2 linked regions of the Homo sapiens genome follow. The protein of the gene in region 1 purifies or fractionates together with the protein of each later gene. This does not show direct contact. Each region holds a gene or a part of one and is shown on either strand. Other genes may lie near its edges. The genes, in order: PKIG and TYMS.

Region 1 (15,755 bases):
AAAATGTCTCCCCCTCTCTCTCTCTTTAAAATTCCTGCTTTAGCTGCATTGCTGCATTCATGTGCAGTGACTCTTATGTCAAATGCCTATGAGGAGATTATGACTAATTTAACATTTTGTTGTTGAGAGGACATAAGGAATGGTAGAAGGAGTACTAGATTAAGGATCAGGAGCCTGGATTCTTGCGCAAGTTACGTAACTTTTCCTAGCTTTGATTTCTTCATTTGTCAAGTAAAGATAGTCATGTCCCTCCTGTTTCTTGGGGTTGATGAGAAAATTTATGTAAAGGTACTTTCTGGACTATACCGAACAAATGGAATGCAAAGGAGAAGTAGGGTAATGGAAGGAGCTTGGTGTTTGAGTCTCACAGGCCTCGCCCACACTGTGACCTCAAGCAAGTGGCTAATGTCTCTCAGCCTCAACCTTTTCATCTGTAAAATGGGAACATCTATACTTGCCTTGCAGGAGTGTTAGAAGGATTAGAAATAACATATGTAAAGCACTGACAAATGGCAAACAATAGTTGAATAGCAATAATTGTTATTATTACACTTAATGTGGATATATTCACTCTGGGTGATTTAGGATTCTAAACCTAAGGAAGTATTCAGTTTATAGATGTAGAGATTAGCAAAAGGCCCTGCTAGTAACTGATAGTAGCAACTGATAATAATAGCTAACTTTAAAAAATCCAAGTAATACATGAATATGACTTTTTAAAAAGTCTCTGAGTCTAGAAAGGCATCTGTCTCCTGCTTACCCCTCACCCTGAGGCAGCCATTTTATTTTTCTGCTTTTACTTCTTTTGGTGGTTACTTCTATTTCTCTAAATAATGTTACTCCCATTTCCTTTTTTAAATGAATTTTGTTTTTGTCAGAAAGGTACATGCACATAGTTTGCCTTAGTCTTTTTAAGGTCAAATATCATAAAAGATTTGTAATAAAAACCATCTGTTCCCTGCCCCCACCCTTTCTTTACCCTTCCTCCTATCCTGCTCCCAAGGGCATACACTTTTGATCCTTTTAGGCGTTTGATCTAGCATTTATCTCTCTATATCTAAATAATATGCTTATCGAGATATGGTTTTTTTTAACTGTATTACAGAAATTTTGAAACATGTACAAAACTAGAAAGAATAGTATAATGAATCCTCATGTACCACCCATTACCCGGCTTCAAAAATCAAAAACCCATGACCAGTTTTGTTTCATCTGTGCTGGTAGCCATTTTCCCCTGCCACTAGATTATTTTGGAGTAAATTCTAGACATCATTTTATCAGTAATTACTTCAGCATGTTTTTTTTGTTTTTGTTTTTGTTTTTGTTTTTGTTTTTGCAATGTCGCCTGTCACCCAGGCTGGAGTGCAGTGGTACGATCTTGGCTCACTGCTACCTCCACCTCCCTGGTTCAAGCAGTTCTCCTGTCTCAGCCTCCCAGGCAGGTGGGACTACAGGCACACGCCACCATGCCCAGCTAATTTTTTTATTTTTAGTAGAGACAGGGTTTCACCATATTAGGCTGGTCTCGAACTCCTGACCTCAGGTGATCTACCTGCCTTGGCCTCCCAAAGTGTTGAGATTACAGGCGTGAGCTACCGTGCCCAGCCTAGCATGTACTTTTAAGAGAATAAGGACTCCTTTTAAAAATATAACCACACTATCACACATAAAATAATTAATAATCCTTTATTATTAGCAGTGGTCTCCATTTAACTCATAAGTTATTTTTTTAGTTCTAGTCAGATCCAAACAAGGACCTCACATTACCATACTGCTTTTTCTTGACTCATCAGTTTTTTGTTTGTTTTTGAGACAGTCTCGCTCTATTGCCCAGGCTGGAGTGCAGTGGCACCATCTCAGCTCACTGCAACCTCCACCTCCCAAGGTTCAAGTAGTTCTCCTGCCTCAGCCTCCCAAGTAGCTGGGATTACAGGCATGCGCCACCATGCCTGGCTAATTTTTGTATTTTTATTTTTGAGACGGAGGCTGGCCGTCACCCACGCTGGAGTGCAATGGCATGATCTCGGCTCACTGCAACTTCTGCATCCTGGGTTCAAACGATGCTCCTGCCTCTGCCTCCGGAGTAGCTGAGATTACAGGCACCTGCCACCACGCCCAGCCAATTTTTGTATTTTTAGTAGAGATGGGGTTTTGCCATGTTGGCCAGGCTGGTCTCAAACTCCTGTCATGCAGCTGGTTTTGATCAGACATCCTGTCATGCTTTATTTGGCCATTCACAATCAATAATAAAAGACTTCTTTAAGGGGATAGGTCTCAGTTCATCTGTTTGTCCCATAGGCCTCTGCCCTGCCTGGGAAGCTGCTGGGTACTGGAAGGGTACTAAGGTACTAAGTGGAAGATGCTTTAGGGCACATGAGCAGGAGCAGCAGTTAGACTGAGGGCCCTTCACGTGTTAGCATAAGGAGGCCAGTCTCTTACTAGAAGCCCTCGATCAATCCTAGGCAGTTCATTCAATTTATTTAAAGAGGCCTCCTGTCTTTGGCTGTGGTTCTGCAGAGCTTTTGGGCCCTCTGTGTGCTGCAGGTATGGGATAGAGGAGCTGGCTGGCACAGGACCTTCAGTGGATCCCTTAATTTTTTGGCCCTTCTGAATCTTCTCGACGCCTGCTGTCTTCAGGTTCAGAGCCTCCCTGGGGTCCCACACCATTCCTTGTCTCTCATTTCCAATGGTGCTTTCTTGTCCTTGTGCTCCAAACTTCAGCTTCTGTTGTCATACCTCTCTGAACTTTTTCTATCTTCCGGAAATTATTTGAAATGAAATCCCTTGTTCTCTAATGATCCTTCCTTCAGCAAAAAGGCCCAATTTGTAGTTCAGAAGACGTGGTGCTTTTTACAAAAAGTATGTTAATGTTTTACCATAGACTGGACTAAGTAGAGTGTGTGTGTGTGTGTGTGTGTGTGTGTGTGTGTGTGTGTGTTTAGAAAATATTTATTGAGTTTCCTATTTTATGCCAGGCACTCTTCTAGGCACTTGGGATAGATGTATTCAGTGAACCAAGGAGACATACTGTTGACTTTGTGGAGCTTACAGTCTGGTGGGGAAACACATGGAACGTGTACTTATAAATATGTTAAGGGTTATAAGAAGAGACATAGGAGTACCATGAGACCAGTACAGCAGGGGGAGCTAACGTGGCTCAGAGAAAAGGGCGCCCTAGGGAAGTGATATTTAATCTGAAATCTGATGGCTGAGTAGGAGTTAACCAAAATAAGAGGGAAGAGCCCTTCAAATTTGTATGTCAAAGTGCAGTAGCAAGTGAGAGTCTGAGACCAATAGAGAGTAGCAAGTGAGAGCCTCAAACCTTCTCCTGTTGGAGCACCAGGCTGTACTACCTCAGGATAGTCCCTTGCCTTCTCTGGATCTGGCATTCCTCACCCCTAAAATGAGGAGACCACATGCTCCTTTCAGCTGCAAAAATCAATGAGTCCAAGACTGTTTAAAGTTAAGGTCACTGTTTAAGTGAAGGTCCATCTCTCCCAAAACAGCTGTAGTTGGAAACTTATCTCAAGCTGGTGGGAAGTGGTTTGAAAAAAGGCAGGGAGGGGACAGTGTGATATCCTGCGAACCTATCCAGTTTCTAGCCACATAATCACTGGGGTCAGGCTTCTCTTCTCCTTCTGGCTCTCCTTCAGACACACCAAATCAGCAGTCCAAAGGGGACCACAAAGTGGATCCTCAGGACATCGAACCCTGAAGAAAAAGCAGCCACGTGTACTCCAAAACCAAAAAAATACGTTGAGCAATGTCTTAGTCATCTTTTGTGGGTTTGATTCCCCATCCCCCAAAAATGACTTAAGTTTCTGATTTCAAAACATTGTGTGTATGTGTGTGTGGTTTTTTTTTTGAGACAGATTATCATTCTGTCACCCAGGCTGGAATGCTGTGGCATGATCTCATCTCACTGCAACCTCTGCCTCCCAGGTTCAAGCAATTCTCCTGCCTCAGCCTCCCGAGTAGCTGGGAGCCTCCTGAGTAGCTGGGACTACAGGTGTGCACCACCACGCCCAGCTAATTTTTTTGTGTTTTTTTTAGTAGAGACAGGGTTTCACCATGTTGGCCAGGCTGGTCTCGAACTCCTGACCTCAAGTGACCTGCTCGCCTCAGCCTCCCAAAGTGCTGGGATTACAAGCGTCAGCCACCGTGCTTGACCAAGAACATTGTTTTAAGTGTAAGTGTGGTTCCTTCTCTGGGGCCTTACACCAGGATTGTGGTGAGACGATGTATTGTTCTCCTTTCTTTTTTCCTGTTCTTCTGTATTTTCTTATCTTTTTACAATAAGCAATTATGATTATAATTGGAAGAAAACAAAATCTACTTTTATTCGTAAATCTCAATCAATATACTTCTCAATTAATTGTCTAGAAAAAGCATGGACCTTCTAACTGCATGGCACAGTGAATAAGTGAGTTGGAAATGGTATGACAGCTGAAACCTGCCTTTGATGGGTGATGAGCGATTGCACTGTACAGCAGCTGTGTGGACTAGAAAGTGGGTAGTGGTGGCCAGAATTTCTTTATTCATATACTCCTTCAACAGATATCCGTCAGTTGCTAGCTGATATAGTTTGGATGTCTAACTATATTGGTGGATAGCTGTTGGATGTCATGTTGAAATGTGAACCCCAGTGTTGGAAGTGGGCCCTGGTGGGAGGTGTGTGGGTTATGCGTACAGATCTCTCATGAATGGCGTGATCCCCTCCCTGCTGTAATGAGTGAGTTCTTGTTCGGTTAGTTCAAGTGAGAACTGGTTATTTTTTAATTAAAAAAAATTATTTTGGCCGGGCATGGTGGCTCATGCCTGTAATCCCAGCACTTTGGGAGGCCAAGGTGGGCGGATCACGAGGTCGGGAGATCGAGACCATCCTGGTTAACACGGTGAAACCCCATCTCTACTAAGCATACAAAAAAATTAGCCGGGCATGGTGGTGGGCGCCTGTAGTCCCAGTTACTCGGGAGGCTGAGGCAGGAGAATGGCGTGAACCTGGGAGGCGGAGCTTGCAGTGAGCCGAGATTGCACCACTGTACTCCAGCCTGAGACTCCATCTCAAAAAAAAAAAAAAAAAAAATGCAAGGGACTACATGTGTGCACCACCATGCCCAGCTAATTTTTGTATTTTTAGTAGAGACGGTGTTTCACCATGTTGGCCAGGCTGTCTTGAACTCCTGACCTCAGGTGATCTGCCTGCCTTGGCCTCCCAAAGTGCTGGGATTACAGGCGTCAGCCACTGTGCCTGGCCCTGGTTGTTTAAAAAGAACCTGGCACTTCTCCCTCTCACACTTGCTCTCCATCTTGCCATGCAACATTCCGGCTCTCCTTTCCCTCTACCATGTCTAAAAGCTTCCTAAGGCCTCACCAGAAGCAGATGCTAGTGCCATGCTTCTTATACAGTCTGCAGAACTGTGAGCCAAATAAACCTCTTTTCATCATAAATTATTCAGCCTCAGGTATTCCTTTATAGCAGTGCAAACGGACTAACACTGCGTAACAAATTAATCAATCTGTGCCTGTGATTTTCTCATGTGTCAAGCAGGGATAATAATTATACCTACCTCATAGAGATCCTTATGGGGTTAAATGAGGTAATTTATATAAAGCAGTTAGAATACAACCAGGCACGGTGGCTCACACCTGTAATCCCAACACTTTGGGAGGCCAAGGCAGGCAGATCACTTGAGCTCAGGAGTTCAAAACCAGCCTGGGCGTATGGTGAGACCCCCGTCTCTACAACATAAATAAATAAAATAAACAGAATATTACCTGGCATATGGTAAATATACAATAATAGTTTTGGGGTTTGTTTATGGATTTCCTTATTTTAATAAGTATCTCATAATATGTACAAAATGCTGCTATATTAGACACAGATCTTTTCCTTAAAAAGTTAGGATTCTGGCAGAGAAAAAAGACCTGCCCCCAACTAAATATGTGTCATCAGAGAAAAGGGTATGTTTCTTAAGAGAGAAACAGAGCATACTAAGGAAATTCAGAGGAAGGAGAGACCCCTTCTAAACTGGGGGTAAAAGGTGGAATTAAACAGCCAAAGTTTCCTTCATCCTCAAATGGAGCTGATGCTGCTGTCTGTGAAAAACAGCCAAGTTTCCTGAAGGGAAGCCCTTTAAGAGGTGGTAGTGCAAGGGGGTTGTGGATTCAGGACTGGCACCACATGGTCCCTAGTTAGAGTGCAGGCTCTGCCCCTTGCTCCCGTGAGCCTTTGAGCAGGTTGGTCGGCTCACCATGCATCTGTTGCTACAGCTGTAAGATGTGAATATTAATAATGTCTCCTGCACCCGATTATTGTGAGGATGACATGAAGTGGTGTTCATAGAGTGCTCAGTGCACAGCTTGGCCCCAGCCCACATAAGTGTGTCCAGTATTGTCAGTTATAAGAAGAAATGAATGTGCCAGTGTTGCTATGGTTCTGTCTTCCGGGATTCTGTCACAGACGTAGAATTATTCCGTTCACAAGGGAAGTGATACAGAGTACATGTTGTTGAAGAAAATGATGTTGTTTTTATGAATGGGCTCCTTACTATTATTTTTGTTCAAGTAACAAAACATGATTCAAAGCACCCATCTTCAAGAGCCCAGCCTCATTTCCTGACACCTACTCAGTCTTCTGGAATAAAGGCTCAGCCAAACAATAGCCCTGACCTCCAGTCCCTCCAAACTGAGTGTTGCTGCTGAGAACAGGCCTTACAGCTCTGGGTGGGCTTTTGTTCATTACTCATCGTGACATTCTGGAGAAATACAGGACCCTTTTGACTTCCCGACCAATCTCTGACTTTCTTTCATTGTCACATCACCATTAGGGCAAAGGATGATGAAATGGTCAGAATTAGACAAGAAGTATTCAAATATTTTTCAATGTATAGTATGTGCCAGGCACATAACCCACACAAGAACCTTGGAGAGTAAGGCTGTTATTCTTCTCATTTTACACTGGGAAACCAAAGCACAGCAAGAAGGTCTAGGGACCAGAAGGAAGCCCACATCTCTCTGAGCTGTGAACGGCTGCTCTCTGTGGGTTACCAGGCTGGTGTTTTTTTGTTTTGTTTTGTTTTTTGTTTTTTGTTTTTTTTTTAAAGACAGAGTCTCACTGTCGCCCAAGCTGGAGTGCAGTGGTGCAATCTCGGCTCACTGCAACCTCCATCTCCTGGGTTCAAGCAATTCTTCTGTCTCAGCCTCCCAAGTAGCTGGGACTACAGGAACACGCCACCACGCCTGACTAATTTTTTTTGTATTTTAGTAGAGATGGAGTTTCACCGTGTTGCCCAAGCTGGTCTCAAACTCCTGAGCTCAGGCAATCCACCCACCTCGGCCTCCCAAAGTGCTAGGATTACAGGTGTGAGCCACCGCGCCCGGCCAGGCTGGTGTGGTTTTTATTCCACAGCAGTCCTACGTCACATTGTCACATTGTTGAAAAGCCTTCAGATTGACAAACTCCCTCCTAATATAGCCTGTTTTCTTGGATGTTTTCTGATAAGCATCTGTGTTTTCTGAGAACTAATAAAAATTCTTGTTAAACCACAAATTACCACAGCCTCTTCCTTACCTATAGAGAGCCGCTTTCCCAGTAAAGCTCCGGTCCTACCTTCCCATCACCATCAAAGTGGCATTGAAACAGATCAGATCTGCTCCTTTTGAGGGAGTTAGTTGAAGCCCAGTCTTGCTTCAGGCCACACAGGATTTGGGTAGCAAAGCAAGGAAAGCAGCCTCTCTGACCTAGTGGCCTGAGTGTTTCCTTTCCCAGGCTGGCTGCGGCAACCACTTTGAGAAATGGCATTGGCATTGGCATGTGTGTGGCATGTGTGCTGACCTAGTTAGGAGTTGAGGCTTCATTTCTAATTCTGTCCCTTTCGTTTTGAGCTGTGTGACCTTGGGCATGTCACCTAACTTCTCTGTATATGTCTTCTTATCCAGGAAGGAGAGATTAATAATGTAGCCTCATAGCACTTATCTGATTCTCCTAAGGATGTTATGAGAATCAAATGAGATTATGTACAACGAGAGCAAACATTTATTCAATACTTAGTATGTACCAAATACTTTCAGTTTCCTTACATGTGTTTTTTAATTCTCACAATCCTAAAACAGAGGCACTAGTATCCCACTTGACAGTTAAAAAAACTGAAGTTCAGAGAAATTAAGTCAGACAGGACTCAGATCCACATCTGTGGCTCCCAAATGATGTTCCTAACCACTATGCATGTCACTCGCTCCCCATTGTACACGAAAGTAGAGAGATGTTCTTTGTCTTTACCATCAAGCACTCTCCAAATGCAAGAAATGATCTCTCGTAACCACTGCTGTTCCATGTTGGTCCCTAAGGACACTTATAGCCTGTTACTTGTTTGTCTTATCTTGTAGTTTATGCTGCTGCTTTTCATGTCCCTAAGGACTTGTTCAGTGAATTCTTTTGGTTTTACTCCCAGAGAATCTGTTCATCTCCTTCATAAAGGGGGTTAAAGGTGCCCAGCTGAGCCTGGCATCTTGGGCAGTGGCCTCTGACTTCTCCAGGGTTCTTCCTTCCCTCAAGCATGTAGTTGGGTAGCTTGTAGTAAAATGCTCTATAATGCATTTGTTTATAAGTTCCCCAGTCACTGATTTTTACTCATTGAATCTCAGAAGTGGAAAGCACCAAAGCCAGCATTTTGTTGATAGGGAAACTGAGGTCCAGAGAGGGATGTGACTTGCTTGAGGTCATTCATTCAGTTGAAGGCCTGACCAAGACTGGAACCCAGTTTCCCAGGGGACACACCAGTGCTGTTTCCAAGCCTTCCCCGGGGGCACACATCACCTCCCCTACATGAAGGACAAACTCATGTACTGTGCCCAGCATGTACCTAGGAGACCTGGGAGAAATGAAACAACTTGGAAAATTGGGCAGGAAGAAAGAGATGGGTGTGGGGTGGGGTGAAGATCTCCACCCTAACTAGTATATTATATACCAAAGAAAGGAATTAAACACACAGGAAAGCAGACAACCCACTAAGAAGCAAAGGAATTTACCCAGGAACCCTGGCTCAGTGAGTGGATAGGAAGCCTTTTGTCACTAAAGCTGCAGGGTTGAAAATTGAAGGAAGGATATTAGGCAAGCGTGGTGGCCTGGGATGCAGTTACAGCCCCCTGGCTCATTGTCCAAAGGAAATGGATCTCTCCTGTGGACAGAGAGGTGGAAACTGAGTGAGTGAGTTGTGTGGTTGACATCATCAGGCTGAGCATTGGATTACAACAAATGGGGACTTACTTGGCCCGAGACATGGGAAACACCCACTAAAACCTCAAAGTGCTTTTCATTTAGGAGACACGGGGAAGAGACAGAGAGGAGGGTAAAGTGAGAATCCTGCCCGCACCACAGGTCTGGACTGCTAACCTTGAATCCTGGTTTCTTAAATTCTGCCTCCGCTTCTGACTGAGGACCACTGGATTTTGAGGAAACTTTGGTCTTGTAAGTAGAACTTTACTCTCCTCCCCTGCCCAACACCCCCAGGGAGAAGCAGAGCTTGGAGGCAGAGCTCTCTGGAGAGCTTGCTTTCCAGCCTGTTGGCCACAAAATGTCTATTTTTATATAATGATATATGTGAGCTTGCTCTGAAAATTATGGCCTTGTCTGAAACTGCCTAAGGCTAGTCGGAGCCTCCAGTCTCACAAATGGGCTCCATTCAGATGCTGTTTCATTTTTACTCAAAGAACTTTGACAGAGTATTCAGAGCTTTAAAAGCAGCTCCTTGCTCCAAATATAGGTGAAGAAATAAATCTTCCCTAAGAAATTCGTGTTTGTAAAACCCTTTCTTTTTTTCTGATTACAAAGGTGGTATAATAATTTTTAAACATTCTAGAAAGAAAAGTCTCCGAAAGTAGTGAAAATTCCCTATTATCTTCCCCCTCAGGAACATGGTTGTTGTGTTAAATTTCAGTTACAGATATGGTCAGACTCCATGAATTTACCACATATAAACCCAGTGCTGCAGCAGCTGTGTGGAAAACTCCAAGATGGAAAGGGGTTGGAAATCTTTAACCTTGGGTTTGCGATCTTTTTATTGCTTCCTTTTAAAAATTTGCTGTTTATGCCTGGAATATAAACAGGACATGTAAGCCTTTAGGCATTTTATTTGTTGGTATCTGTTTTCAGGGTTTGAAACTAAGCAAGCTACTCTGTAGAGAGGGAAAGAGGGGGCCCTTGCTGTACCCAGGTCCCTTACTTGGTGGGTCCCTGAACTGAGGAGGATTCCTAGGTGGCTTGAGATGGCTTGCAGTGTGCTAACAGGGGAGGTGTCCCCTCTTAGCAGGTTAAGTATATTTGAAAAGTTACAGCTAACGGGAAGATTTCAGCTTCAACAAAAAGCTACCATATATTAGAAGGGTCACCCAAGGAAACTGTCACCTTGGGCAAGTGTTTCACACTCTCTGGGTCTTGTTTCTTTATTTGTACCTAATGAGGGGACAAAACTAGATGATCTCTGTATTTCCAAATTCAGTATGAAATGAACTGTCCATATTTCTTTTCCCTTTGTATTGGGCCCTTATGGCTTTAGGAGCAAAGGACCCTAGGTTTTCAGTTTCCCAGAGTAGCTAAAAACGGGTGCCTGTAGGACAGTTAAAAGAAGACATAAAACAGGCAACATTAAGTTACTTCTGAGTTTTTATGGGTCTTTTTCAGATTAGGTGTTCTTGAAGAAAGAGAAAGAAAAAGTCTCAGTGGTAACTGTATGTGCACACGCATACACTAGCACATACACTTGGGGAGAGAGGAAAGAAGGAATTGGCATTATTGAGTATCTCTTAAGCACTAGGCCCTATGTTATGCTCAACCCTTTACAGAGCACTAGATGGTCAGTATTATTCCCTAACCCCATTGACTGAGGACAACCATCTACTTATATGTTTTCATATTATCCTGAACTAAACTGTATTTACATAATTACTGGCATAACTTCAATTCCCCATGTCTCCACTAGACCATCTGCACCTTCTCTGCGTGTCTGTCTAGCCCATCACTATGCCCCACTGCCTAGTAGAAAGCCTGGCACATAGGTACAAAGGAGACACAACTTAATTTAAACTTAAAGCCCGCCATCCTAGTTCCTCATTTGGCAAGAAAGAGGGAGAAGAAGGGGGAAAATCCCTCTATTTGCCCCTCTTTCATCATTTAACATAGAGCCACCCTCTCCTGCCACAAGGGAAGGATAGCCACAGCCAGAGTGCAAAAAAAAAAAAAAAAAAGCAAAAGACGTCAGATCTTGAATTTTGAGTTTCCAAGGTGCCGGGTCTTGACAAATTAAGGTTTTTGCTTTGTTTTGTTTTGTTTTTGTTTGTTTGTTTTGTTTTCTTTAAGGGCATCAGAGACCCTAATCCTCAGGAAGTTGTGGTATTTAGAAACTATTTGTTTGAATTAAGGTCCTAGTTAATAAGAGGGTTCTCAAAGGCCCTTGGCACTTCTTTTTTTTTTTTTTTGAGACGGAGTCTCACTCTGTCTCCCAGGCTGGAGTGCAATGGTGCAGTCTTGGCTCACTGCAGCTTCCACCTCCCGTTTTTGTTCAAGGGATTCTCCTGCCTCAGCCCCTCGAATAGCTGGGATTACAGGCGCCTGCCACCACGCCCAGCTAATTTTTGTATTTTTAGTAGAGATGGGGTCTCTTGGCACTTCTAAAGCTGCAGTCTTCCCCAGCATTTCATCCCATGAAGGTGGACTGTTGCTGCCATGGACCCACCCATGGGCATGGGCAGTGGGAAGGCCAGGGCATCCTCTGCTTCATCCCAGCCCCGCTGGGATCTTGAGATTTGGGGTAATCAAAAAAGGCATCCTTTTTCCTAAGGTGGTGGTGAGGAGGTGATGTTCTGGAAGGAAGGTACCTAGACTTTGTGGTCCCTGCCAGGAAGTGGAGAGTGGAAATGTGGAATGCCTCACACTCCTCAACTAGGTAGGCCTTCATGTACCAGATGAGGGTGGCTTTCAGTTCTTGTTTTGTGTGTCAAAGTTGCTCCTGTTATCAGTGTGTGTTTGCTGATCTCTCCCACCTCAGTCACTCCCGGCAGTGAGTTTAGGGCATCTTGGGAGTGGAGGTAGGTTGTGGAAAAGATGTGTCCAGAGATCTCATTTGGCTTTGGTATCTTCCTGAAATAAATGTCACACACAGGGCTGGGCATCTTGCATATGCTGACTTCTCTTAATCTTCACAGCAATGATGTGAGGCAGAGATCATCTCCATTTTACACCTAAGAAAGGCACAGAGAGGTGCAGTGGATTGCCCAGAGTCTCACAGCTGGCAGGGGCTAGAGCTTGAGTTCCCAATGAGAACTGGTTGTCCCCGAAGCCCTTGAATATTTCACCATACTGCAGTGCCTTTTTCATATCACCTCCCTGGATCTCAGTTGCTCCATCTGTTAAATGATGACAAGTGAACTCTAGTCAGAAGTCAGAGTGGTGTTTTGTTTTTAATTTGAATGCCTTTAGGCAGGTGTGTTCTCCAGTTCATTACCATTTGCGCATTCCCCTGTGCCCTCTAGTCTCCTGCCTGGCCCCTGGCCCCTGTGGGAATTTGCAGCCCTGCATCTGGTTGGTGTCTACCGTTTCTTTCGATTTAGACAATCTAGAGGGCAGTGAGAAATTGGAAAGGGGTAGCAGGTAAGAGCTCTCGAGTTCAGTGAGAAATTGGAAAGGAATAGCAGGTAAGAGCTCTAGAGTTCAGTGACAAATTGGAAAGAGATAGCAGGTGAGAGCTCTTGAGTTCAGTGAGAAATTGGAAAGGGACAGCAGGTGAGAGCTCTCGAGTTCAGTGAGAAATTGGAAGGGGATAGCAGGTAAGAGCTCTGCTTTCACCGCCTCCTAGCTGGGAGATCCTGGACTGATCACCTCACTTTATAGAACCTACTTCTCTTTCTGTCAAGTGGGGGGTCACAGTCATACTGACCTCAAAGGGGTGCCATGCGGATGAAATGAGATAGGGCTCATAAAGCACTTAGTTAGTACAAAAATACATGCTTAGGATTAGCTGCTCTCAATTTCCAGAAAGAGAATGTCAGCCAATGTACACAGGCATCTGCCCCCTCAGACATAGGATGGCATTTGCATGAGGAACCAGAAGTTATCTTTGAACTCATCATTTTGAAACCCCTGTGATGAACCCTGGAGCTGCCATGTTGGCTCTTCAAACCAAGCCTCAGCATTATTTCCTGTCACCCAGTCAAGTGATGCTGAACCTCAAATCAGCCAGCCAGTGCTGAGGCCAAAAGCAGAAGTGGGTGCTATTCTCTTGGGACCAGAGGACCCTAGCCCAGCCACTTAAGGAAGAAGCTGGTAACAGGTGCTGGCTGTGACAGACAAGAAGCTGAACTGGCCCAATTAACTCTGCCAAATGCTTTCACGAGGGGCCAGAAGCAATTCCTAAGTGGAGACTGAGGTGGAAAATCTAAAGTTCTGGGAAACAGGTTATTAATCATGACCCTAGGCTGAGCTCACTACCTCCTGGAAATCCTTCAGAAATGTCTTAGGAAAACTTGGAGTACTGCTCCTTCAAAGAGTGGTTTCTTTGGAAGTTGCCGTGGGCTCCTATGCTGACTGATTATGAATTGCAGATTAGAACACATAATGTATCCGCTCTTACTGGAGGAAGCTGCATTTCCAAAAAGAAGTCTCTTTAATGTTTCAAGAAATTACAGGCTTTAGCTTGACTCTTCAGAACTGAATAATGGCCCTTCATGGCACCGAAGAAAGTATTTGGTGTATTCTTACTATGTCCCAGGAACCTAGGTCAGTTACTGTTTTAGTACTTTATCAGTGTAGTCTTTAACATTCCATAAATGTACATTGAGGACCTGTTAGTACTAAGCACTGAACTAGAGGACCAGGGTAAAGACACTGCCTCTGGTCTTGTGGAATTCTCTGTGCAACAAGGGAAGATAGACAGAGGAGTGAATAATTTTAATGGCACGTGAAAAGTACTGCAAAAGAAATATGCACAAGTGCTACAAAACACCAGACACTGGATCAGCATATTGTGGAGGTCCTGATCTTGCGCTGGGTTGATTCCTTCTGCTCTCTCCCTACAATTCCTGGCTCTGGGAGCTTTGCCAGCATTTGCATTAGGGAGCAACTGAGAGCTGCCCCTGCTGAAGCACTCATTTCTGGCACCTTCCTATCCCCCGTGGCTTCAGAGGGGTGGAAAGAACACTTCCTTACAAAATGTATGGGCCCCACCTGAGAGGGCCCTGAATCTGAAGTCCAAAGTTGTAGTAAGGAAACAGAGGGACGGGTGACTTTTGTAGTCTAAAATCACCACTGATTTTCCGTTGGTTTGTTTTTATAACATTTATTGTGGATTTTTTTTTTCTGATTGCAAAATTAGAATATGTTCAAGGGAAGAAAAGCTAGATAGTACAGAAAAACACACTTAAAATAAATCATCACTCAGTGATTTCACTTCTCTGTTTTTGAATAAGGGCCTGTCTCCCAATCCCCCCACCCACATACCGCTGTATTTCAAGTTTAGCTCTAATTTTAATTTCTCCCTGGGCAAAGTCTCATGTTTGTTTGCATATCTCAAAGGTGCTTGTGTTGTGGGCTCCAATCACTACTATCTGCAATTGGTTAGAGCCTGCGGCCATCATTTATACTTTCCTGGACGTGTGTGTAGATTCATCTACTGCTAAGAACCCTTTATGTGTTAGGCATTATGCAAGGTGCGGTGGGGAATGTCGAGGTAAATAAGACTTTGAGGTTGCTCATGGCCGGATAGGAAAAAAAGACTCAGATAACATGAACACATTGTGAAAATGTGCCCCAAGATGGGGACAGAGTCCTGTAGAAAGCCTAAGAGATTGGAGGAGCAGTAGCATTTGAGCTGAGCCTTCAATAAATTTTTCATGTATTTAGCCAATATTTGTTGAGAACCTAATATCCGCCAGGCACTGGGCAAGGTGATAGGTGGATGATGTTAAATATAACAGGCATGGCCTTTACCTGCATGAAGTTTACAAGCACAAATGGTGGCGTTAAGAAGTCAATAAGCAGGGGGAGTGAAAGAGGAGAGTGTGGCTGGGGTCTTCCTTGAAAAGGTGGTATTCAAACTGAGAAGAGGGCTGGGCGCGGTGGCTCATGCCTGTAATCCCAACACTTTGGGAGGCCAAGGCGAGTGGATCACCTGAGGTCAGTATTTCAAGATCAGCCTGGCCAACATGGTGAAACCCCGTCTGTACTAAAAAAATACAAAAATTAGCCGGGCGCGGTGGCACGCACCTGCAGTCCCAGCTACTTGGGAGGCTGAGGCGGAAGAATTGCTTAAACTTGGGAGGCAGAGGTTGCAGTGAGCTGAGATTGTGCCATTGCACTCCAGCCTGGGTGACAGAGTGAGACTTTCAAAAAAAAAAAAAGAAATGGAGTCACTTATACCAAGAGTAAAGGAGGGAGAGGGAGTAAAGAAGGGTGCTGGATTATTCCTTCCTTTGCTCATTATTGATTCTAAAAATCTCACTTATTTTCTGTATTCAGTTTCCTTTCTATTGGAGAATATTCTTGGGGTCTGTGAATGGTAAACTTGCCCAGTCTTTGTTTGAAAATATCTTTTGCCCTCACACTTGATATGTTAGCTAGATATAGAATTTTTTGCATAGCATGTGTAATGAATGTGAAAGTTATACATGCCTCTTTAAAAGTTTTCAATCAAAACAGAAATAGATAATGTACAAAGTGAAAGTCTTTCATTTCTTTTCTCACAATTTCTCAAAAGAGAATAATT
Region 2 (15,757 bases), on another chromosome or scaffold:
ACTAAATCACCTAGGTGTCTATGTTCTATCACATCTACAAACATGTCACTTCCTAATTAACAAAATGTTCTTCCTTTAGTTTGCTTTTGCACTTAAAATATATATAATTGACTTTTTTGGAAAAAAATCTAAGATTCATTGCTTTGTTTTGTAAAGACCAATAGGTTCTGTATAGTCTTTTTTTAAATTGTGGTAAAATACACATGGCATTAATTTACCATTTTAACCATTTTAAAGTGCACAATTTGTGGCATTAAGTACACTCACGTTGCTGTGCAACCATCACCACCGTCCATCTTCAGAACCTTTTTATCTTCCTAAACTGAAACTCTGTACTCGTTAAGCACTCACTTCCCTTTTCCCCATCCCCCAGCCCGTAGCAACCACGACTGTACTTTCTATGAATTTGACTACTCTAGGTACTGCATGTAGGTGGAATCATACAGTATTTGTCTTTTGCTTTGTTTTGTTTTGTTTTTTGTTTTCTAAGACAGGGTCTCACTCTGTCGCCCAGGCTGGAGTGCAGTGGTGCAATCACAGTGTCCTTTTGTGACTGGTTTATTTCACTTAGTGCCATGTTTTCAAGGTTCATCCATGTTGTTGCATGTCTCAGAACTTCCTTTTTTAGGCTAATATTCTTGCATGTATTTACCTAGTTTTGCTTATCCATTCAGCCATTGATGGACACTTGGGTTGCTTCCATCTTTTGGCTATTGTGAATAATGCTGTTTTGAACGTGGGTGTGCTACATAGTTACTTTTTAAAATTGGCACAACAGCGCTGTCTTTTGACATACGTATTTTATGGAAAACACAAGATTTTCCTGGCTGACGCTCAACCTCATAATTTGGACCTTGGTGCAACACAATAATAGGAGAGCTATGTGTCAGTATATATCACTAAGGATTACAATGAGAGTATATACAGTCAGTATTACAAATTATAAAAAGAAATGTAGGCCAGGCACGGTGCCTCACACCTGTAATCCCAGCACTTTGGGAGGCCAAGGTGGGTGGATTACCTGAGGACAGGAGTTCGAAACCAGCCTGGCCAACATGGTGAAAACCTGTATCTACTAAAAATACAAAAATTGGCCAGGTGTGGTGGCGCATGCCTGTAATCCCAGCTACTCAGGAGGCTGAGATGGGAGAATTGCTTGAACCTGGGAGGCAGAGGTTGCACTGAGCCAAGATTGTGCCACTGTACTCCAGCCTGGGCAACAGAGCGAGACTCTTTTTTAATAAATAAATAAATAAATAAATATATAAAAGAAACGTAATGAAAGAGAGAGAACTCTGAACTTTTAAAGAACTTTTCACCCAGTCTTGATCTATCTGACAGAAAGGCTTGTCAGAGAAAGTTAGAGTTCAGAGGCAGCCAATTGAATATAATTAACTCCAAATGAAGATAAACCTTTTCTAAATCATAACTGAAGGCTATAAAAAATGAGAATTATGTTATTTTTTTTTTGAGACAGGGTCTTACTCTATTGCCCAGGCTGGAGTGCAGTGGCATGATCTGGGCTCACTGAAGCCTGACCTCCTTGGCTCAGGTGATCCTCCCACCTCAGCCTCCTGAGTAGCTGGGACTACAGGTACTACCATGCCCGTCTATTTTTGTATTTTTTTAGTAGAGATGGGGTTTCTCCATGTTGTCCAGGCTGGTCTCAAACTCCCAGGCTCAAGCAATCTGCCCGCCTCAGCCTCCAAAAGTGCTGTAATTACAGGCATGAGCCACTGCTCCTGGCAGGGAACTAATAGAATCCTGGGTTCTTCGGTGTGCAATAAATCTCAAATACAGTCTATTCAACCATAGATTTTAAATATTTGTTAGTGAAGGTGACAAAAAAATAAGTGATTAAGAGAACCTATTTTCTATCCAATGAGCTATCAAAAGCTTATAGAGTGGAAAGAGAGTGGGGGAAGTGAGGCTCAAAACAGCTAAATGGAAAGAAGATTTTGCATGCAGGCTGAACTGGATTTTCATCCTGGCTACTATATTCTCCAGATGTGTCACTTTGGCCAAGATCCTTAATCTCAGTGTCATCTATAAGGTAATTAAAGTACACTAGTGCCCCACTAATCTGTGGTTTTGCTTTCCAAGCTTTCAGTTACCCGAGATCAACTGCGGTTTTAAAATATTATGTGGAAAATTCCAGAAATACATAGTAAGTTTTCAATTGCATGCCATTAAATCTCATGCTGTCCCTGACCCCTTCCTCTCCGGAGGTGAATGCTCCCTTTGTCCAGTGGCTCCACGATGACTACATTCCCCAAATTGTTCTCTTAGGAACCCTTTCTGTGTTCAAGGAACCCTTACTTTACTTAATTATGGCCCCAAAGCACAAGATAGGGATGCCGGCATACTGTTATAATTGTTCTATTTTATTATTAGTTATTGTTGTTCATCTCTACCTGTGACTAATTTATGAATTCAACTTTATCATAGGTATGTAGGTATAGGAAAAAAACATGGTATGTATAAGGTTCAGTACTATCTGCAGTTTCAGACATCCCCTGGGGGTCTTGGAACATATCCCCCGTGGATAAGGGGAAACTACTGTAAAAGTTTGTGTTTTATAGAGTAGTTGTGAGAACTACATTAATCCATAATGTGTGGCTCATGATACTCATTGATAGATGGTAGTAGCAACAATAAAAAATAATATTATCAAGTAACTGATTCATAATTGACTCTCAAAAACGTTAATTTTCTGCTTTCCTTTACCTAAGTTTACCTACATGTTTGAATTTGTAAAGGGAAGGTTTTTCTAGACCAATAATTTTCAAATATTTTTGCTCTCATACTTCCTCAAAGGAAACTGAAAAAGTTGCAACATACTTGCATGTCATTTTTCTATATAAGTTGAAAGAATAGCAAATTGTTATTTTCCCACGCATCGTAAAGATTAGCAGGTCATCCCTCTTTAAAATGTACCAAATGGAATCTAAATATCATCGCAATTTGACCCAGCATCATCCATTTAAACAAATATACAAGTTTTTCTTTAACAATGAGAAATTTTATCTCATTACATTTTCTCCCTAAACTCTTATTTCAATCTACATTCCTAAGAATTTTATCCTAATGTAGTATATTTTTATGCTTAAATATCTTTTGTTGATCAACACAATTTTGATCATTTTTAAATTTTAAAAATTAAGAACATCCTGTGACATCAAATTCTAGGTATGAAATATTTATTCTAGATTGGGTGATCATTATAATTATTTTTTGTACATAATTGATCAAAATAACATAAATATACTACAAATTTCTATGACTACTAAACATATAAAAGTAAAATTTTAAACAAATATATCTCTTAATGAGAAGGAAGAGCTTTTTATACTCCAATAAGTTAACGTATCCACTAATAATTATTATTTCTTCCTAGAACAAGACAGGATTAAGCATCATGACCGTCCCTATTGGGGGATGTTTTTATAGATGCAAGCACTGTGGCACCTACTGGTATAAATGCACCTGCTGATTGGAATGTTCTTTCCCCAGATCTTCCCCTGCTGGTTTCTTCCCAGTATTCAGGTCTCAGCTCAAATGTGACTTCCTCAATGAGGCCTCCTGGTGATCAGATCTAAAGCACCCTCTACACAATCACTGTTTAGTGCTATACCCATTAATTTACTATCATCACACTTGTCACTATCTGCAGATGTCTTGTTTGGTTACTTTTGTAGTGTTTGTCACTGCCAGAATATCAGTTCTATGAAGAAAAGGGCCTTGTCTGTCTTGCTGTTTGTAGACATGAGGAAGGCACCATGATATAAATGTGTGTTAATGAATGAATGAATGAAATTTGTCTGAGAGAACCATTCATTCTAACCAACATTTATGGAGTAACTACTTTGAAAAGAACCATTCTGTCTTTACTATCAAGCCAAGATACTCAAGGAAGGCAGCAGAAGTGGAAGCTCCATGTGGGCAGAGGAGCCTAGTCTTGAGATGTGATTTAGCTGGTATTTGGGTGAAACAAATAAACCAGCCTCAAAATAACACAAGGGGCCGGGTGCAGTGGCTCACGCCTGTATCCCAGCACTTTGGGAGGCTCGAGGCAGGCAGATTACTTCAGGTGAGGAGTTCGAGACCAGCCTGGCTAACATGGTGAACCTCCATCTCTACTAAAAATACAAAAACTAGCTGGGCATGGTGATGGGTGCCTGTAATCCCAGTTACTCGGGAGGCTGAGGCAGGAGAATTGCTTGAGCCTGGGAGGCAGAGGTTGCAGTGAGCTGAGATTCTGCCACTGCACTCCAGCCTGGGTGACAGAGCGAGACTCCGTCGAAAAGAAAAAAAGAAAGAAAGAAAAAAAACACACAAGGATGTGCAACTGATGCAGGGCAGGTGAGCCCAGAATTGGGCTTAGCTCAGGAGGGTTCTTGGTTTTGCTCAGGAAAGAATTTAAGAGCTACCTGGTAGAAGAAAAGCTCTACTGATATGGCAACAGCTCCCTGAGTGCCCCTGTAGAGCAGAGCTACCCTATAGGCAGTGTGCTGACAGCAGTAGCTTAAAGGCAGGTCTGCAGTGATATTTATAACCTACTTTCAATTACATGCAAATTAAGGGGCAGATTATGCAGAAATGTCTAGAAAAAGGGTGGTAACTTCCGGTTGTCGGCTCACTGCCATGGAAAGGGGCAGTAAGCTCTGGATGTTGCCATGACAATCGTAAACTGACATGGCACACTGGTGGGCACGTCTTATGGAAAACTACTTCTGCCCCATCCTTGTTTTGACTACTCCTCAATTTGGTCCCATGTCAGAGCCCTGCCTCCAGAGTCAAGCCCTGTCTACCTCACAATTATTATGTATCAGGTTTTTAAAAAATAACACAAGTAAGGCTGGGCATGGTGGCTCACGCCTTTAATCCCAGCACTTTGGGAGGCCGAGGTGGGCAGATCACTTCAGATCAGAAGTCTGAGACAAGCCTGACCAACATGGTGAAACCCTGTCTCTCCTAAAAATGCAAAAAAAAAAAAAAAGAAAAAAAAATTAGCTGGGCATGGTGGCAGGCGCCTATAGTTCCAGCTACTTGGGAGGCTGAGGCAGAATTGCTTGAACCCATGCAGCGGAGTTTGCAGTGAGCTGAGCACCACTGCACTGCAGCCTGAGGGACAGAGCAAGATTCCACCTCAAAAAAAAAAAAAAAAAAAAAAAAGGAAAAAGAATAACACAAGGAAATTAAACACAGATAACGTGCATCTGGATAATCTGGAATATTTTCAGCCTGGGATCTTCCTCGTGCTCGGAAACGTGTAGGGAAACGTGTAGGGACAGTTTTCAGCTGGTGTGGGGTGGGGGAATGCCAACATATGGTTGGCTTTCCACAGTCCTGCTAAAGCCCTGCAATGTGCAGAACAAACCGGTCCAGCTAAGAAAAGTCCCACCCAAAATGCTGAGAGCACCTCTGTACTCAATCAACCGTTGAGGTAAAAGGATGCTTGCAAGTACAACACATGTATCAGTGCATTTTAAACTCATTATAAAATCGTTCTGTAAACCAAAAATAAAATTCTACGCCCAGAACCATCTGAAAAGACCACTCCTCTGGGTCAAAGGCATTCCAAATTTAACCACAAAAACTAGTTCAGGCCATGATGGGAAGGGGAGCCAGACATGCCTCATTATTCCCTCCTCCGTTTGGAATTTAGGCACAGCTGACCAGCATTGACATCAACACAGGCCTCAAGACAGGTAGAACACACTCTTTAAGTCTGACAAGAAACATTTACAATCTATCTCTCTAAAGCCTGCTACCTGGAGGTTTAATCTGCATGATGAATCCATGGTCTCCACAACCCCTTATCTTAACCCAGATATTCCTTTCTATTCATTCAAATCTTTTTTTTTTTTTTCCCCATACGGCTCTGTCACCCAGACTGGAGTGCAGTGGCGCTTTCTCAGCTACTGCAAGCAACCTCCGCCTCCTGGGTTCAAGCGATTCTCCTACCTCAGCCTCCTGAGTACCTGGGGTTACAGGCGTGTGCCACCTCGCCCCACTAATTTTTGTATTTTCAGTAGAGAGGGTTTCACTATGTTGGCCAGGATGGTCTCAATCTCCTGACCTCGTGATCTGCCCGCCTCGACCTCCCAAGTGCTGGGATTACAGGCGTGAGCCACCGCGCCCAGCCCTCTATTGATTCCAGATCTTTAGATAACAATTCTTTCAACCAAATGTATAAAAAATCAAGTTGTAGCCCAACCACCTTGGGGACATGTTCTCAGGATCTGCTGAGGGCTCTATCACCGGCCATTGGTCACTCATATTTGGCTCAGAATAAATTTCTTCAGATATTTTACAGAGTTTAACTCTTTTCATCAACAGTTCCCACTCCCCAGTGTTAATGTTATAAACAATTCAGTAAAACTGGGAAATGTGGTCTATTAAAAACTTGGGGCCGAGTGCGGTGGCTCACGCCTGTAATCCCAGCACTTTGGGAGGCCAATGTGGGTGGATCACCTGAGGTCAGGAGTTTGAGACCAGCCTGGCTAACATGGCGAAACCCCGTCTCTACTAAACATGAAAAAAAAAAATTAGCCGGGCGTGGTGGCGGCGCCTGTAGTCCCAGCTACGCGAGAGGCTGAGGCAGCAGAATTGCTTGAACCCAGGAGGCGGAGGTTGCAGTGAGCCGAGATCGCACCATTGCACTCCAGCCTGGGTGAGAGAGCGAGACTCTGTCTCAAAAAAAAAAAAAAAAGACCGCCAGGGCTCAAACAAAAAACCTCGGAAAAGCCCTGGCGGTCTTTTTTTTTTTTTTTTTTTTTTTTTTGGGACAGTCTTGCTCTGTCGCCCAGGCTGGAGTACAATGGTCGGATCTTGGCTCACTGCAACCTCTGCCTCCCAGGTTCAAGCAATTCTTCTGCCTCAGCCTCCCAAGTAGCCACCACGCCCAGCTAATTTTTGTACTTTTAGTAGAGACGGGGGTTTCACCATGTTGTCCAGGCTGGTCTTGAACTCCTGACCTCAGGTGATCCACCCGCCTCGGCCCCCCAAAGTACTAGGATTACAGGCGTGAGCCACCGCGTCCAGCGCCCTGGCGGTTTTTAATCAAGTAGAAAAGCTGCATTATACCACTTGCTTCGGTTGCTTCAGTGAGAACGAAGAAATGGAAATGCAAATCCCTTATTAGTTGTAGGAAACAGATCTCAAACAGCAGTTTTGTTGACAAGACCGCAGGAAAACGTGGGAACTGTGCTGCTGGCTTAGAGAAGGCGCGGTCGACCAGACGGTTCCCAAAGGGCGCAGTCCTTCCCAGCCACCGCACCTGCATCCAGGTTCCCGGGTTTCCTAAGACTCTCAGCTGTGGCCCTGGGCTCCGTTCTGTGCCACACCCGTGGCTCCTGCGTTTCCCCCTGGCGCACGCTCTCTAGAGCGGGGGCCGCCGCGACCCCGCCGAGCAGGAAGAGGCGGAGCGCGGGACGGCCGCGGGAAAAGGCGCGCGGAAGGGGTCCTGCCACCGCGCCACTTGGCCTGCCTCCGTCCCGCCGCGCCACTTGGCCTGCCTCCGTCCCGCCGCGCCACTTCGCCTGCCTCCGTCCCCCGCCCGCCGCGCCATGCCTGTGGCCGGCTCGGAGCTGCCGCGCCGGCCCTTGCCCCCCGCCGCACAGGAGCGGGACGCCGAGCCGCGTCCGCCGCACGGGGAGCTGCAGTACCTGGGGCAGATCCAACACATCCTCCGCTGCGGCGTCAGGAAGGACGACCGCACGGGCACCGGCACCCTGTCGGTATTCGGCATGCAGGCGCGCTACAGCCTGAGAGGTGACGCCGCGGGCCCCTGCGGGACGGGTGGCGGGAAGGAGGGAGGCGCGGCTGGGGAGAGCGCTCGGGAGCTGCCGGGCGCTGCGGACCCCGTTTAGTCCTAACCTCAATCCTGCGAGGGAGGGGACGCATCGTCCTCCTCGCCTTACAGACGCCGAAACGGAGGGTCCCATTAGGGACGTGACTGGCGCGGGCAACACACACAGCAGCGACAGCCGGGAGGTAAGCCGCGTCCCAGCGGCTCCGCGGCCGGGCTCGCAGTCGCCCCAGTGATGCCGTGGCCCCCGAGGCGGGCGTCATCGGGCAGCGTTTGCCCAGTGCTGGAGGGTTAGGGAGAGCTGCCTGGGCTTGACCGCGCGCCGGTCTCAAAGTCCTGGCTTTGGCCCCTCCTCCGTTTTCCCCTGTGGACCATTCCGCTTCGCAGCGTTTTCAAAAACTGGAGCGAAAGTGATGTGGGCGGGGCAAAGGCGGCGGGAAGAGGAGAGCACTGAAGCTGGCGCGGGAACTTGGTTTCCTGGTGGCCTCCCATCCAATCCCCACGAACCAGCTTTCCTCTTAAACCTTGAAAAGAGAAATTCGGGAGTTCGAGTATAAGTTCTTAGTCGTCCTTTCCTCTTTCCTTTCCGACAGGAGCACCCCAGGCAAAAAATGTCTCGCGGGTCATTGGCGCCAGGCTTTCAGGGGACAGTGGGGCGGGGCGGGGTGGGCACAGGACGTTAGGCAGCCGTTGGCCCTCCCTAAGGCCACACCGTCCTGCCGTCCTGGATCCTGCGCCAGCTGCGCGGGGGAGGGGACTCGAAGGTGTGTGAGCCAGGGGCTGACCTTGACCGCTCAGATAAATGGAGCGCAGCCTTGACACAGGGGTGGAGGTGGTTTTGAATGGGGAAACCCATTCGTGGTGAAGCAGATTCACTGTAGCTAGCGGAAAAGCCCTCCGGCCCACGGACCCATCTAGAGACGAATACATAGCAGCTGCTGTGGCTGATTGGCGTGGGACAGCGTGGGGAGTTTTGTCTGAGGAGAGGGATCCACTTTTCTGCAGCTCCAAGCCCAGGGGCCTTTGATGAGCCATAGACCTCATTTTTAACCCACCTTTCTGCTTAGACATTGAGCAAGTTACTTCTCATATAGCTTCCCTATATGTTAAAAATGGAGAAAATAATGCTTAGTAGGCAATTCTGATAAAAGCAGGTGCTTGCAAAAATCTCTCTGTTGTCTGAATATAAACTGTACCACAAGCGAGTGCGGATGAACGAGGACTGCATTTAAAGATAAGTTTTTACACTTTCATTTCTCTGTGGCTCGACACTTCTGATGCCTCCCTTTTTGTTCCTGGGACACATGCTTGGTGTTGTCTTCACACCTTTGTGACAGGATTAGCACTAGTGGGCAGTGGATGATAGCTCCTCCCTTTTGCCACATGTTCATCCCTGCCCTCGCCACCATCTCACTGTGTGGAATTCCTGTGTCCACTGGTCACCGGGGCACAGAAGTGCTGTCTCAGCCTGAATCGGGCCACTGATGGGACTTGCAGCCTGGGAGCTCCACCGTGATCTCTGGCCCACTTTGCGGGAGTCTAGGCTTTCTGGATGCTCCAGGGCCTCACGTCCCAGGGCAGTTTTCTTCCCTGAAGAAAGTTGGATGGCATGATCTGTCTTCCCATCTTGAAACCGTATGGCAAATTGTTTTTCAGATGAATTCCCTCTGCTGACAACCAAACGTGTGTTCTGGAAGGGTGTTTTGGAGGAGTTGCTGTGGTTTATCAAGGTAAAGAAGTCGCTGCTATTAGAAGTCAGTAGTCTGTTCTCAACACAGCAGCCAGTGAGATCCTTTCAAAACTCAAAGCAGCCAGGTGTGGTGGCTCACGCCTGTAATCCCACCACTTTGGGAGGCTGAGTCAGATCACCTGAGGTTAGGAATTTGAGACCAGCCTGGCCAACATGGCGACACCCCAGTCTCTACTAATAACACAAAAAATTAGCCAGGTGTGCTGGTGCATGTCTGTAATCCTAGCTACTCAGGAGGCTGAGGCATGAGAATTGCTCACGAGGCGGAGGTTGTAGTGAGCTGAGATCGTGGCACTGTACTCCAGCCTGGGCGACAGAGGGAGAACCCATGTCAAAAACAAAAAAAGACACCACCAAAGGTCAAAGCATATCATTCCTCACCCTCAAGCCCTTAGTGGCTCCATTTCACTCAGTAAGAGCCACGGTCCTTATGGTGTCCGTTTTTCAGCTCTGACCTTAGCTGCTGCTCTCTGCACCAGCCCTGCTGTTCTTGTGAGTTTTTGAGCACACCGGGACATCCCCACTCCCTGGAACCTTCTTCCCCCACACTTGGCTTCTTCCTTTGAGTCTCTACTCCACTCGGGCAAGCCTTCCTAGACCTCCTGATTTAAAACTGTGACTCTCCCCCAACCTCCTTGGTGTTTCTCCATAGACGAACATCACCATCTGATGTATGTCAGCCTTTCCCTTCCCCTGTTAGAAGGGGGACAGCAGGTAGTAAAAGTGAAATGTGCTGTAAGCTTTATGAGGGCAGAGGATTTGTTTCTCGTGTTCACTGTTGTATCGCCAGGGCCTCAAACACAGCCTGCCACATAGTAGGAGTCAACATATATTGATCACTAAATGTAGATACCACCTGTGTTCCCATGTTCATATAAATTCTAGAAGAGTCTCTTCAGTAACAAGGTGAACCCCTTCCAGAGGGCTGAGTAGGTACCTCAGGCCGGGGCCAGAGTGCTGTGAAGACAGGCAGCAGCCCAGACCAAGCTTCTCTGTGTTCCGTGTCCTGGTCTAGAACCAGCGATGTTCTTTCTGACCAGTGCTTTTTGGAAGGTGGCTGAGGTCTGGGCTCAGGTCTGGGCCATACTAGAAGCTGGGATCCCTTCTATAGAGCACTTGGTATGGCTTGTATGGTCTTGGGGCAAGCCAGACCCAAGCCCTCTTATCCCATTTTAGAAAGGGCTTCAATTTGGATCCAGCCCCAGGTCTGCCTTAGCTCTGTATTCTTGGGGTATTTTGTTCTGTATTGGCCTATCTTGACTAACAATGAACCTTGGATTTGAAACATATCATCAGAAACCTCAGAAGACAACATTCTTAAACTGGCTAGAGCCTGGTCTGAATGGATGAAAAGGAGAGACTTTTGAAGCAATATGTAAAAGATTGAGAAATGATTTGTTGGAAATTTCTCAATTGGAGAAATTTCTTTGATTTGTTGGAAATTTCTTTGATTCTTTCTCAATCAAAGAAAATCGGGACAAACTCAACAATAGAAAGGGAGGAAGCAAGATACTCAGAAATAAAATGCATTCCCCTGTTTCAACTTAATGCTTCAATTCAGGATTCTAAGGAATCCTTGCCAGGAATGTCAGACTCACCTTGATAGTTGGAGTTACTCCATTGGTGACTCGATCAAATACAGGAGTTGAGGCACCTGCACTGTAAAATACTGATTAGTCTGATCATTAGGAATATCCTGTATGCCAGGTAGAAGATACATTGAACAGATTGCATGTAGGCATTAAATTCATTTTGGGGTATTACATATAGACAACACATTTCATTAAGAAACATAAAACTGTCAGATCGGTGGAATACTTAAAAGCACTTGGAGGTGTTTAGCCTAAAAAGCTTAGTTGAGGGGAATGGAAGAAAAGATCTGGGAGGGTGGTTCCAAAGAAGGGATCAGACTGTCCTAAAGCCCTCAGGAATCTGGGCTGGGACCAGCCTACTTAAAGATAGGATGGGCAGCTGGGTGTGGTGGCTCACGCCTGTAATCCCAGCACTTCGGGAGGCCGAAGTGGGCGGATCACCTGAGGTCAGGAGTTCGAGGCCAGCCTGACCAACATGGAGAAACACTGTCTCTACTAAAAATACAAAATTAGCTGGGTGTAGTGGCGCATGCCTGTAATCCCAGCTACTCGGGAGGCTGAGGCAGGGGAATCGCTTGAACCTGGGAGGTGGAGGGTGCCGTGAGCCACGATCGCGCCATTGCACTCCAGCCTGGGCAACAAGAGCGAAACTCTCAAAAAACAAAAAAAAGGATGGGTTCCATATGGGTGGTGTCAAGTGCCCACCTCCTAGCAAGTCAGCAGGGGCCAGAGGCCCTTGTAAGTGGTGTCTCGGGGGGATCAACTGAGATGGCTTAGGATTTACCTGGATGCCTGCTCTGCTCTCCCCATCTCTTCCAGGGATCCACAAATGCTAAAGAGCTGTCTTCCAAGGGAGTGAAAATCTGGGATGCCAATGGATCCCGAGACTTTTTGGACAGCCTGGGATTCTCCACCAGAGAAGAAGGGGACTTGGGCCCAGTTTATGGCTTCCAGTGGAGGCATTTTGGGGCAGAATACAGAGATATGGAATCAGGTGAGGAGATAGAACAATGCCTTCCATTTCCCGGGTGCCCTTCCTAGCATGTGTTTGCTCCGTTGTTTTAGATAAGGTCTGGGGGATGAGTCAATGTCACAGGAGCTGATGTATAGCTTTGACCTTGTGAGGGGTGGTGCCAGGTTAAGCCACAATTAAGCCTCATGAAGGCCGTTTCACACTCTTTTTTTTTTTTTTTTTTAATTATTATACTTTAAGTTTTAGGGTACATGTGCACAATGTGCAGGTTAGTTACATATGTATACATGTGCCATGCTGGTGCGCTGCACCCACTAACTCATGATCTAGCATCAGGTATATCTCCCAATGCTATCCCTCCCCCCTCCTCCCACCCCACAACAGTCCCCAGAGTGTGATGTTCCCCTTCCTGTGTCCATATGTTCTCGTTGTTCAATTCCCACCTATGAGTGAGAATATGCAGTGTTTGGTTTTTTGTTCTTGCGATAGTTTACTGAGAATGATGATTTCCAATTTCATCCACGTCCCTACAAAGGACATGAACTCATCATTTTTTATGGCTGCATAGTATTCCATGGTGTATATGTGCCACATTTTCTTAATCCAGTCTATCATTGTTGGACATTTGGGTTGGTTCCAAGTCTTTGCTATTGTGAATAGTGCCACAATAAACATACGTGTGCATGTGTCTTTATAGCAGCATGATTTAATAGTCCTTTGGGTATATACCCAGTAATGGGAGGGCTGGGTCAAATGGTATTTCTAGTTCTAGATCCCTGAGGAATCGCCACACTGACTTCCACAATGGTTGAACTAGTTTACAGTCCCACCAACAGTATAAAAGTGTTCCTATTTCTCCACATCCTCTCCAGCACCTGTTGTTTCCTGACTTTTTAATGATTGCCATTCTAACTGGTGTGAGATGGTGTCTCATTGTGGTTTTGATTTGCATTTCTCTGATGGCCAGTGATGGTGAGCATTTTTTCATGTGTTTTTTGGCTGCATAAATGTCTTCTTTTGAGAAGTGTCTGTTCATGTCCTTCGCCCACTTTTTGATGGGGTTGTTTGTTTTTTTCTTATAAATTTGTTTGAGTTCATTGTAGATTCTGGATATTAGCTCTTTGTCAGATGAGTAGGTTGCAAAAATTTTCTCCCATTTTGTGGGTTGCCTGTTCACTCTGATGGTAGTTTCTTTTGCTGTGCAGAAGCTCTTTAGTTTAATTAGATCCCATTTGTCAATTTTGTCTTTTGTTGCCATTGCTTTTGGTGTTTTAGACATGAAGTCCTTGCCCATGCCTATGTCCTGAATGGTAATGCCTAGGTTTTCTTCTAGGGTTTTTATGGTTTTAGGTCTAACGTTTAAGTCTTTAATCCATCTTGAATTGATTTTTGTATAAGGTGTAAGGAAGGGATCCAGTTTCAGCTTTTTACATATGGCTAGCCAGTTTTCCCAGCACCATTTATTAAATAGGGAATCCTTTCCCCATTGCTTGTTTTTCTCAGGTTTGTCAAAGATCAGATAGTTGTAGATATGCGGTGTTATTTCTGAGGGCTCTGTTCTGTTCCATTGATCTATATGTCTGTTTTGGTACCAGTACCATACTGTTTTGGTTACTGTAGCCTTGTAGTATAGTTTGAAGTCAGGTAGTGTGATGTCTCCAGCTTTGTTCTTTTGGCTTAGGATTGACTTGGCGATGTGGGCTCTTTTTTGGTTCCATATGAACTTTAAAGTAGTTTTTTCCAATTCTGTGAAGAAAGTCATTGGTAGCTTGATGGGGATGGCATTGAATCTATAAATTACCTTGGGCAGTATGGCCATTTTCACGATATTGATTCTTCCTACCCATGAGCATGGAATGGTCTTCCATTTCTTTGTATCCTCTTTTATTTCATTGAGCAGTGGTTTGTAGTTCTCCTTGAAGAGGTCCTTCACATCCCTTTTAAGGTGGATTCCTAGGTATTTTATTCTCTTTGAAGCAATTGTGAGTGGAAGTTCACTCATGATTTGGCTCTCTGTTTGTCTGTTATTGGTGTATAAGAATGCTTGTGATTTTTGCAGATTGATTTTATATCCTGAGACTTTGCTGAAGTTGCTTATCAGCTTAAGGAGATTTTGGGCTGAGACAATGGGGTTTTCTAGATATACAATCATGTCGTCTGCAAACAGGGACAATTTGACTTCCTCTTTTCCTAATTGAATACCCTTTATTTCCTTCTCCTGCCTAATTGCCCTGGCCAGAACTTCCAACACTATGTTGAATAGGAGTGGTGAGAGAGGGCATCCCTGTCTTGTGCCAGTTTTCAAAGGGAATGCTTCCAGTTTTTGCCCATTCAGTATGATATTGGCTGTGGGTTTGTCATAGATAGCTCTTATTATTTTGAAATATGTCCCATCAATACCTAATTTATTGAGAGTTTTTAGCATGATGTGTTGTTGAATTTTGTCAAAGGCCTTTTCTGCATCTATTGAGATAATCATGTGGTTTTTGTCTTTGGATCTGTTTATATGCTGGATTACATTTATTGATTTGTGTATATTGAACCAGCCTTGCATCCCAGGGATGAAGCCCACATGATCATGGTGGATAAGCTTTTTGATGTGCTGCTGGATTCGGTTTGCCAGTATTTTATTGAGGAATTTTGCATCAATGTTCATCAAGGATATTGGTCTAAAATTCTCTTTTTTGGTTGTGTCTCTGCCCAGCTTTGGTATCAGGATGATGCTGGCTTCATAAAATGAGTTAGGGAGGATTCCCTCTTTTTCTATTGATTGGAATAGTTTCAGAAGGAATGGTACCAGTTCCTCTTTGTACCTCTGGTAGAATTCGGCTGTGAATCCATCTGGTCCTGGACTCTTTTTGGTTGGTAAGCTATTGATTATTGCCACAATTTCAGCTCCTGTTATTGGTCTATTCAGAGATTCAACTTCTTCCTGGTTTAGTCTTGGGAGAGTGTATGTGTCAAGGAATTTATCCATTTCTTCTAGATTTTCTAGTTTATTTGCGTAGAGGTGTTTGTAGTAATCTCTGATGGTAGTTTGTATTTCTGTGGGATTGGTGGTGATATCCCCTTTATCATTTTTTATTGCGTCTATTTGATTCTTCTCTTTTTCTTTATTAGTCTTGCTAGCGGTCTATAAATTTTGTTGATCCTTTCAAAAAACCAGCTCCTGGATTCATTAATTTTTTGAAGGGTTTTTTGTGTCTCTATTTCCTTCAGTTCTGCTCTGATTTTAGTTATTTCTTGCCTTCTGCTAGCTTTTGAATGTGTTTGCTCTTGCTTTTCTAGTTCTTTTAATTGTGATGTTAGGGTGTCAATTTTGGATCTTTCCTGCTTTCTCTTGTGGGCATTTAGTGCTATAAATTTCCCTCTACACACTGCTTTGAATGTGTCCCAGAGATTCTGGTATGTTGTGTCTCTGTTCTCGTTGGTTTCAAAGAACATCTTTATTTCTGCCTTCATTTCGTTATGTACCCAGTAGTCATTCCGGAGCAGGTTGTTCAGTTTCCATGTAGTTGAGCAGTTTTGAGTGAGTTTCTTAGTTCTGAGTTCTAGTTTGATTGCACTGTGGTCTGAGAGATAGTTTGTTATAATTTCTGTTCTTTTACATTTGCTGAGGAGAGCTTTAC

Evidence for each region.
Region 2: the proteins of PKIG (region 1) and TYMS purify together in Homo sapiens (affinity purification with mass spectrometry; 2 studies listed by BioGRID and IntAct, with this or other methods). This does not show direct contact.

Annotation. Positions count from the first base shown.
Region 1 is NC_000020.11:44,573,263-44,589,017, forward strand, and holds the start of PKIG (cAMP-dependent protein kinase inhibitor gamma), read left to right. Parts: upstream 1-9,316; 5' UTR 9,317-9,469; intron 9,470-11,837; exon of another isoform or gene 11,838-11,942; intron 11,943-15,755. UniProt on the Homo sapiens protein: Extremely potent competitive inhibitor of cAMP-dependent protein kinase activity, this protein interacts with the catalytic subunit of the enzyme after the cAMP-induced dissociation of its regulatory chains.
Region 2 is NC_000018.10:650,172-665,928, forward strand, and holds the start of TYMS (thymidylate synthase), read left to right. Parts: upstream 1-7,481; 5' UTR 7,482-7,571; coding exon 7,572-7,776; exon of another isoform or gene 7,777-8,120; intron 8,121-9,469; coding exon 9,470-9,543; intron 9,544-11,974; coding exon 11,975-12,149; intron 12,150-12,814; exon of another isoform or gene 12,815-12,834; coding exon of another isoform or gene 12,835-15,105; exon of another isoform or gene 15,106-15,757. Other genes in the region: ENOSF1 (mitochondrial enolase superfamily member 1), read right to left, coding at 12,835-15,105. UniProt on the Homo sapiens protein: Catalyzes the reductive methylation of 2'-deoxyuridine 5'-monophosphate (dUMP) to thymidine 5'-monophosphate (dTMP), using the cosubstrate, 5,10- methylenetetrahydrofolate (CH2H4folate) as a 1-carbon donor and reductant and contributes to the de novo mitochondrial thymidylate biosynthesis pathway.